Linked DNA regions of Homo sapiens: all the other regions are reported to be linked to region 2. Evidence: microRNA targets listed by miRTarBase, many of them from high-throughput screens and not tested one by one. Region 2 holds a microRNA gene; each other region holds the end of a gene's coding sequence.
The links. Region 2 holds the annotated microRNA hsa-miR-4739 (AAGGGAGGAGGAGCGGAGGGGCCCU, at 1,738-1,762, opposite strand). A microRNA usually pairs through its seed, bases 2 to 8, with sites in the 3' UTR of a target mRNA and lowers its output. Matches are read on the target gene's strand: a 7mer-m8 pairs with bases 2 to 8, a 7mer-A1 pairs with bases 2 to 7 and ends in A, and an 8mer does both.

Region 1 (3,153 bases), not on the chromosome of region 2:
GATACAGTTATGGGACTTTTTGCAGGCTATAATGAGGGCTCCAATTCAATTTCATAATCTTAAGTAACAATCTATAAAAAAGGAAGGAAAAAATTTTAAAAGGTCATACCAAAACATTAAGTCAAGATACAAGGTACATATTTTCTAGCAGATTGTGCCATAAAAAAGAGAAAAAGAAAAAAATGTTAATTTAAATCCACTTTTTATTCTTTCACAGATTTTAACAATTATACACAACTTTTAACATAAAGGTAGTGAAATCTCAAGGATAAGGAGGCAATATATATGGCCTCTTCTATTCGTTATTCAGGATGGAAGGAAATTTTCAAAGTACAGTGTGTGAGATTCAACACTGGAAAAATACATATGAAACTTGTTTAATTGGCTCCACTTAGGACCAGACACAGCACAATAAATACAGAACTGCATCATCTTTTTAAAAGATCATTGTAATTTTAACACATTCTTACTAAAGAAATACATACTATCAGTGACCGATCTGAAACTCTGTAACAGGTGAAGGGAGACTTACGATGAATATCTGAGCATAGGTTCGCTAGCATCTTCACACTCATACATAAACATTCTTAAAGGGAATAAGAATGATTTCAAATTCAAAACAACAACAACAACAAAAAAACAAATTTGGTCAAACTTTCTTCATCATACCATTCATTGCTATCACAATCCTAGTTTGCTGGTAGGTTTAAGAAAGGAATAGAAAGTTTTTGAAATCCTTTTAATTTCTACCAGTCTTAGGGCCTCTTGAGTAGGCCACTTTGGAAGCAAACTGATTAAACAGCACCATCAAGTCCGTATCTCAACAAACCATTGCATAATTTCTGTCAATGTTCTCAAAGGTTAAAACAAGTTGTATAGAAGAATACCTTTCCTCAATAGCAGGCCACTGTAAAAACATGTAATCTGCAAGAATTTAAACAAAACTATCCTGAATTCTCTACTGATTGCTTCTTTCCTTAATAGACCAAGAGATAGGCATTACCTAAAAAATTAAATAATAATATACTGAGGCATAAAATAAATACTTTATTTATGCTATCACAATTTGGGTATTTGAAGATTGTTAGCCATGTTCACACACCCTTTCCTCTTCCCAAAGAGGAAGCAACGGTGCCAGCACTATTGGTCAGAAAGAGTTAATGGGAAACTGTTGCTCTCAGAGCTGTTCTGCAATATGCAGACACATAAATTATTATTTTAAACATATACTTAAAAGACGGATAAAATGATTTTTTTTCATGTGACCCAGATTCTGTTATCAGTAGATACAAAATTAATTTCATTCCTATTAGGATGGAAACTGGTATGCTGCTGTGGCCATAGATATTCTGAGAAACCTCTTAAGCCAGTGAACCAAAAACCATATGAAAGAAAGTAATACTTTCTATGATTGGTCAACTGGCTGTTCAAAAATTCAACAAGCAAACAAACATGCAAACATGTGACATATGTCATTATTTTGTAAAAACATAATGCCACTCTGGCCCCAGGAATCACTACAGCCCAGCTGGTCCTTAAAGGTGCAAACAGCCTTTAATTGCTACTAAACATCTTCTCTGGTATTTTACTGCCCATCACACTTGCCACATGATTCTCAGAAGCTTAGGCTTCCAAGATGTTTAAGGAAAATAAACAGGGTGTGATGTGGATCAAGTTTTCAGTGATTGTTTTAAGTGTCATTTTAAAAAGAACTTCCTAGTAATGAAGTATGTAATAGTCCTTGATATTAAATTTTTTCTAGTGAAATAAACTATGCTTTAATAAGACAATGTTGCTCTAAGTTTGACCGCCTGATTTTTTTTTTCTCTTTTTTAGAGGGTACTATTTCATATATTGTGTGAGCCCCACAAATGTCTATTTTAAAAAGAGTATAGTCCCTGGCCAGGCGCGGTGGCTCACGCCTGTAATCCCAGCAGTTTGGGAGGCCGAGGTGGGCGGATCACCTGAGGTCTGGAGTTCGAGACCAGCCTGACCAATATGGTGAAACCCCGTTTCTACTAAAAATACAAAATTAGCTGGGCATGGTGGAGCATGCCTGTAATCCCAGCTACTCGGGAGGCTGAGGCAGGAGAATCACTTGAACCCGGGAGGCGAAGGCTGCAGTGAGCCAAGATCACGCCATTGCACTCCAGCCTGGGCAACAAGAGGGACACTCCGTCCCCAAAAAAAAAATAATAAAAAAAATAAAAAATAAAAATAAAAAGAGTATAGTTCCCAATGGTTTCTCACAAACATTCCTGATTTATACTGGGGGAAGTGATGCATAATTGGAACATTAATCATTATGTTTTTGAAAATTAAATATTTCCTGCAAAGCAATTCCTTTGCAAAATGCTAAGCTGCCAATGAGCTTACCACAATAGAAATTGAGTCATTTCACAAAGTACCTGTTCAAAAGTTATAGAAACCTGGCCTTCCATTCCAAATTCACTGCAAAGAGAGTACATGCAGTAGTCCTGTTTACAATTTAATAGAGATGAGGAAAGGGTACACCTAGGACAAAGAGGGTCATCACCCTACATACAAGTTTACAGTAGTGTAACCAGAATGTATATTTACTATATTCACCACTTCAGATAAAGGAAGAGGGAGGCCCTTCACAACACTAGAACAAAGGAATGTTTGTTTTATATAAGACCTACCAAAAAAACAGGGAAACAAATAACACACATAGGCACTAGTCTCAAAGCTGCACAATAAAGAAGCAAAGGGTTTGAGATGAGAAATTCAGGAAAATATACACATAGGAGCTTGCTGAGGAAAAGGAAATCACAGTTGTAATCTTCAAGGCTTCTAATCTTCAAGGCTACGGAATGCATTCTGCATGTCTTCAAGAAGTTGTGCATAGTCGCTTTTGATCTTTGCCTCACCATCTTTCAGTGGATCCTGAAAGAAGACATTACAAATTCAACTCGCATTTGGAAAATAATTTTCATTACGTATGTTAAGTTACTTTTTTTTTTTTGGAGGCAGAGTCTTGCTCTGTCACCCAGGCTGGAGTGCAGTGGCACGATCTTGGCTCACTGCAACCTCCACCTCCTGGCTTCAAGTGATTCTCCTGCCTCAGCCTCCCAAGTAGTTGGGATTACAGGCGCCCACCATCACGCCCAGCTAATTTTTTTTTTCATATTT
Region 2 (3,153 bases):
TGAGCTGAAGAGGGTTCTGAGGGCTTTGACCCAGTGAATTGCTGCAGGACCCTATGAGGTGGGAACTTCTCTGTTGCCTTTTCCCAGCTGAAGGAACCGAAGCTCAGACACGGTGAGTGACTTACCCAAGGTCACCCAGCCACTAAGAGGCCAAGGGGACAAGAGAACTGAGTGTAAGGAGGAAATCAGGAAGAGACTGACAGGAAGTGAGCAGGGGACAGTGCGCAGCTGTCCTCGTGATGGGCCCAGCCTTGAAGGCAGCGTTCCGGCTCCCAGAGCTGGCAGCAGGAAGACATTGCTGGAGGGAGCAAGAGGTGGGGCGGGCAGGAGGGCCACCTGAGCCCTGAGCCCTGAGCCCTCAGCGGGCTCCTTGGAGAGTGACCTGGACCTTAACATTGACCCTGGCACCCCGCCTGCTGTTCCCCATGACGCCCCACGCCCCCACCCTGCGTCTGCTCCTGTGACTTGAGGAAACGGACCGACCTCCTTTAAAGGAGGGGTTCCTGAGCCTGGGGAGCGTGACTTCCGAGCCTGTCCGAAAACACCAAACGCCAAAGACACCGAAGCTGTTCCACAGAAGCCGCAGCCGATCGAAAGCCATTGCTGCACGGGATTTTCTTTGGAATTGGTTTTTGGTTCAGGTATTTTTTGGATTAGCATCATCAACACTAGAACTCAACATGAGAAATCCTCCTGGCACCCTCAGACCCCCAGGATCCACCCGCAGCGCCCCACCCCTCGGGGGTCTAAGGACGGGGCCACGGGAGGTGCTCCCCACGCCTTAGCTAGACGCAAGGCCCTCCCGCAGGCTCCCGCAAGCCCATCAGGGCTGGGCGTTTCCCACCCCTTCCCACCCCACCCATCCACCTTCCGTCCAAGCAGGAGTGCAGCCTGCTTGGGCTCAGCGTCCCCTCTTCTGAGAAGCAGCCCGGCCCCATCCTGAGCGCCCCTGGGCCCACAATCCCTCCTCACGTGTGTGGGGCTGGCCGTTGATGTCGCCTGGGCTGGGGGTGCACCTGCAGCGCAAACACGTGACTAAGCATCTTCCTGTCCCGGGCCCTATCAGCGTTGGGCCCCAGGCAGCCCCTCCAGGGGCTACAGTCACCCACCCACCTACAAAGCCCCTCATCTGCAGCGGTGGCTTCATTCCCGGGACGCGCCCCAGGCTCTGCTCAGTCATGGCCCCCAGACCCTCAGGAGCCCCCGAAACATGATGACCTCCAGCCACGTGCCAGCTGCCAGGAGGAGGCTTCAAGACCCCAGATGAGCACCCGGCTGGCCATGCCCCAGGGACAGAGGACCCAGTGTGACAGAATCCGGCCTGGGCCACAGCCACCCACACAGTCCATCCCAGTTCAGCCCGAGGTGGACAAGAAAAGTCCCACCAGGGACTGGAGCAGATGGGGCGGGCTCCGGACCCCTGCCTGGTCCACCATCTGTCTTGCCAGTCGGTCCGTCTACCCAGGCAGCCCCTCCTCCCGGCCCACCATCTGCCCGGCCCTGCTAGGCCCTCCTCCTGGCTCCTCCAGGGCCCTCAGGAGGAGACAGAGCTGGAGCCAGGGCCCAGACCTCCACTGCCTTGGGCCCGCCCCATCTGGCACCTCCAGAAGAAGGGGGCGGCAAGAGCTTGGCCAGGGCAGGGGCACTCCAGGGCAGCCGAAGGCCCTTGCCAGCTGTCTCATGATGAGATGAGCAGAGGGAGGGGGAGGGGAGGAAGGGAGAGGCTCTGGGAAGACAAGGGCCCCTCCGCTCCTCCTCCCTTCTTCCTCCCCTGCCCACGTGGCCTGGGCGGGAGGGACACGCCGATGGGAACATCCCAGCTGGTCCAGGCCTCTGCTCCCCCCAGCTCCTCCTCCCTGGCGGGCAGCTCTTCTGGGCTCCTGAGGTGCTGCGCAGCCCCTTCCCTGGCCCTGGGACCCCCAGTGCCTGAGATGAAAGAGGAGTTGCTTCCATGGACGGTCCCAGTGCAAGCTGGGGGGCGCTGGCCTCAGGACACCAGGCATCCAAGACATAGGGACACCAGAAGCCCCGGCTCTGCCTCTGAGGTCCAGCAGCCCCAAAGCCCCTGCTCAGAAGCCAGCGATGGGAGGGCAGGGCCTGCCTGTGGGACCCATCATGGGCGCAGCAATCGCCAGGCCCTGGGCAGACAGCAGCACAGCCTGTGAGTCCAGGGCTGGGGTAAGTCGGCAAGTGCACCCCCGGAGGTGGAATGACAGGAGCTCCTGTGGAGGACGCAGGCGACCCCCGCCCCTCACTCCACTGTGAGGCCTGAGGATGTACAGGGGCAGCTCTCCCTGGCTTATGAAACGCCCCCACCCTGCTGCCCCTCTGGGTCCTCCTCACCCTGTGGCCTGCAGGGTCAGGAGCATGACTTTGGTGTCAGGAGAGAGGCTGGCTCCTGCCTGTGGCGGGTGTTGGGGGAGGAGTGGGGTTCATTATAAATTACGCTCCCCTCGAACCCGGCTGTTAGGTGAGGGCAGGGCTGGGATTCACCCTGCTCTCTGCAGGGGAGGGTCAGCCCCCAGGTGCTCCTGGGTGGGTCTCCACGGCAGGCCAAAAGGGCAGGCCCTGGGCATGTCCACCCCCTGTCTCTGGTCCCACAGCCCCCTACTTGCCACCTGCCCTGAGCAGCCCCCAGGAGAGCACCCGCAGGGAGGATGCTGAGGTGCTGGAGGGCAGGAGTCCCAGCTGAGGCTGTGACCCCAGCTGTGCTCCCCGTTCCCTCTTAGGACCAGCAAAGACCCAAGGACAGGCGGCCAATCAGGGCCCGGTGTTTACCCCTCCTCCCCCACCCCCATCACGGGCCTCCCGCAGGACCCCCAGGAAGAGCAGCTTCCATTGACCAAGGTCGGGGGACGCCCTCCCGCTGACACTCACTCTCCACGGATCCTGGAGCCCACGAGTCCCCTCCCCACCTCCACTGCACTGGGCCCCCCGCAGGCCCTGGTGGGGGTGGCCACGGATAACCACACAAACATGCATTTTCCTTGTAGGAGCAGGCAGGTGACAACCAGTGTCCTACTTTCCTGCATTAAAACACCCAAATCAACAGGACGGAGAAGGCCCGGAAGAGGGGACCTGAGGGAGCCAGCCGGGCGCTCAGCCTGCTTCGCTGGGATGCTTGTCGAGGTCGGGACGGCACCACCAAACTCA
Region 3 (3,153 bases), not on the chromosome of region 2:
GGAGGCGAGGAGGCCACGGCTAATTTGTACACTAAATGCTTCTGACAGCGATGCCTCATAAGTGAGAACTTGCCACTGCCCACCCCGGGAAGGCTGTGGCCAGCAGCGCCAACAAGAGGGGCCAGGAGAGGGCACCGTGGGGGCACAGGGCTGGGACAGACCAGATACACCAGAGAGATGGTGCTGTTGGTGGGGGTGAGACCCAGGAGGAGATGCGGGGGAGGGGAGAGGCCTGCACAGAGAAGGGAGGGGAGGGCTGGGCGGGGGCCGGGCAGTGACAGTGGGAAGGAGTCAGCCCCGACAGCTGCCACCAAGGTCTGCCCCGCGCCAGGGCTGTGTGTCCTGCCCAGCCAATCCTCCCTGCTGCCTGCAGGACGCTCGCATCTTTTCCCCTTACCTGCTGCCAGCCGCCTCCTCCAGGCCTCCGCAGCAGCCCCTCACGTGGCCCCGGCCCAACACCTGGCAGGGTCTGTGCTGTGGGACCCTGAGTCCTCTGCAGACGCCCCCCCTTTCCCTCATCACCTCCCTGTGGGAGCTGCTCCCGGGGGCTTTCAAGTGGAGAGGAGGCTGCTGGCTGGGCTAGTGGGGACTCTGGGCAGCTGAGGGGGTGGGCACGGACCCCTTGCCTGCTGTGCGGGACTCCTGCAAGAAGGAGGGTCCTTCTTGTGGGCCTCTGTCCTGGGCCACCCCAGGACTGGGGTGGCAGAAGCCAGAGAGGTGGGTGGTGGTGGGGGTGGGGCCAGGGACAGAGGAGCAGGGTCTCGGGAGGAACGGGGGTCCCAGATACCCCAGGACTAGACAGAGCCAGCTCTGTGCCAAACAGGAGCGGGCACGAGCCCGGCCCCCACCCACAGGAGGAGTGTGACGTGGCGCAGTCGCGGAGCAGCAGGGCCGGCGTCCGCGGGCACCGAGGTGAGATGTGTTCTGGCAGCTCCCCGCCGCCCGAGGCCCGCCCGGAGCGAACACTGCTGGTGGCTTTAATTGCTTTCACATTCGATACGCTGCCCGTGACAGCCTCTTACCCCGCGCCGGCCGCACCCCAGCCCCCAACTCCGTCCAGGGAGACAGCAGAGCCTCCGAGCGGGCGCTTTGCTCAGCAGCACCCGTGTGGGGGCAGAGGCCACCCTGGGACGAGGCTGGGAGGGGACAGGAAACTTTTCTCCCCACGCGCCCCCTCACTCCATCTGCTCCTGCCGGGTGACTGATGGGTTCAGACAGAGCCCCCCGTGCGGATGCCTCGCTGGAAGAAGCTGCATGCGCTGCTGTCCCGTCTGCCCAGTCCTTCCCGGCCCTGGGGCTGCGGCCGCAGGGTCTGACCCCTGCCCCCGCCCAGTCACTCCGTCCTTCCTGGCTGCGTCCATTTGGCAGGGCCGGCTGCCCCTTACAAGCTTGTGAGTCACCCCACCACGGCCATCTCCAGGGGCCCCCACCCGTCCGCCTGCCCGGGATGCCTGGGCAGGGCCTACCCCTCAGACCTGCAACCTCCCCGCCCTTCCACAGGGCCCTGCGCGGGGCAACAGCAGGAGGAGGAGGCGTGATTACAAAACAAAACGCTTTTATTTGGTCCATTGGAGCCTGAGTCGGAAGCCACTGTGGAGAATCCTATGGTAAAGGAACGGGACTGACAATTGATAAAATAGTCTCTGTGTCACAAGAGCTGGCCGTATTTACAGGGTTAAAAATATTCACAGCTCAGAGTACAGGGAGGCCAAAGGGGAGTGGGAATGTTTCTCCAGGTGAAAAGGCCCCGGAAGCCCCTGCCGGGGTAGGAGGGGGAGTGGGGGCGAGGCCGGCCCGCTGCCGGGAGTGAGGGGCCAGGAGGGCACGCAGAAAGCTGGGCTCAGACGTCCACACACTCCTGGGCTTCTGTGGGGAGGTGGGAGCGGCTGAGCCCTGCCCGTGCCCACGATGTGCTGGGGTCCCTCTCTGGCAGGGCCGGGCCGAGGGACAGGGTTGGCTGAGGAGCCTGCTGGTCCCAGTGTGCCCGGCAGCAGTGAGCGGTGCTGAGAACTGGTGCCCACCCACAGCGGGCCTGGCGCCCGCCTGCACCCAGTCATGGCTTCGATCCTGGCGGGCACTCCAGGATTTGCATAGTGTCGCTGGGGGGCTGGCCAAGGGCCCCTTCTTCTGAGACAGGCACCGCCCCGGGACTCGCCGCTCCACACCAGGGCTCCAGGGACCCCGCCTGCCCTGTGGGGGACAGGGACCCGGGCTCTGGGGGAAAACTGACCTTATGCCCCGTGAGGGGTGGTCCCTGATCCCACCCCAGGGTCTTGGCCTCTGACACCCAGATTTGGTTTTGCGGACAGAGCTCCTGGCTGCCTAGCCCGCAGGAGACCCTGAGCCCACAGGGAGGGGCAGCCTGGCCTCGGCCCCCGTCGGGTGTTGGGGCTGGCAGGTGAGCGGGGCTGGTTCACAGCCCGCCTGGTTCGAGGTATTCTGCGTGGCGGCCAGGAGGCCTGGCCAGGCGGACTGTGGGGTTCAGGGAGGGGAAGGAGGGGGGCGGGGGGCCCATGGGAAGCTGAGCCCTGGGCTGGCAGCTCCCTGGGCGGGGTCCTGAGATTCTGGCTCAAGCGTCCTCTGTCGGGGTCTCCCTCATAAAGTGCGTGTGGGGGTGGGGGGTCCGTCTGTGCACAGCCCCTGCCCCAGGCATGGTGGTCACAGCGGTCGGGGCCCATGCAGACCGGCGACCTCTGGCGTGAGTGGGGGGCTGTGGGTCCCCTTGGAGGCTGTCCAGTCACTGAGGAAGGCCTGGGCTGCCTTGCGATGTGCCAGGCGGTGGGTGATAGAGAAGCCGGCGTTGCCCTCTAGCTGGGACAAGATCACCAGGACCTGCCTGGGGGAGGGGACCGGTGAGGACCTGTGGAGGGCAGGGTGGGGATGGGGGCAGGGCTGTGCCCACCTGTACAGGGGCAGGAGCAGGAGTGGGGTGACAAACACCCGTACAGGGGTGGGGGCAGGGGTATGAGCACACCTCTGCAGGGGTGGGGGGGGCATGGGTTGGGTGTGGGTGCAGCGGGGTAGGGGAGGGGGCACCTGTGCAGGGGTGGGGGGGCACGAGTTGGGTGTGGGTGCAGCGGGGTAGGGGAGGGGGCACCTGTGCAGGGGTGGGGGGGCAGGGGCGGGGGCGCACCTGTGCAGGGGTGGCACGCT

Region 1: the mRNA of ATP6V1A is a reported target of hsa-miR-4739. Seed matches in the 3' UTR shown: 7mer-m8 at 2,608-2,614.
Region 3: miRTarBase lists CAPN15 as a target of hsa-miR-4739. Seed matches in the 3' UTR shown: 7mer-m8 at 2,484-2,490, 7mer-m8 at 2,350-2,356 and 7mer-m8 at 1,702-1,708.

What each region holds. Positions count from the first base shown.
Region 1 is chr3:113,809,089-113,812,241 of GRCh38, reverse strand. ATP6V1A (ATPase H+ transporting V1 subunit A) reads right to left here. Exons shown (of 15, transcript NM_001690.4): 15 at 186-2,907. The coding sequence ends at 2,815. Among named protein-coding and RNA genes, the nearest start is that of GRAMD1C, 28 kb to the left of the region's middle.
Region 2 is chr17:79,705,479-79,708,631 of GRCh38, forward strand. It overlaps MIR4739 (microRNA 4739), which reads right to left and starts at 1,771; the gene lies at 1,698-1,771. It overlaps LINC02078 (long intergenic non-protein coding RNA 2078), which reads left to right and starts at 1,788. Exons shown (of 2, transcript NR_109783.1): 1 at 1,788-2,178; 2 at 2,994-3,153. RefSeq lists enhancers at 1,630-2,251, 2,252-2,873.
Region 3 is chr16:553,022-556,174 of GRCh38, reverse strand. CAPN15 (calpain 15) reads right to left here. Exons shown (of 14, transcript NM_005632.3): 13 at 3,134-3,153; 14 at 1,539-2,836. The coding sequence ends at 2,659. Among named protein-coding and RNA genes, the nearest start is that of PRR35, 5.8 kb to the left of the region's middle.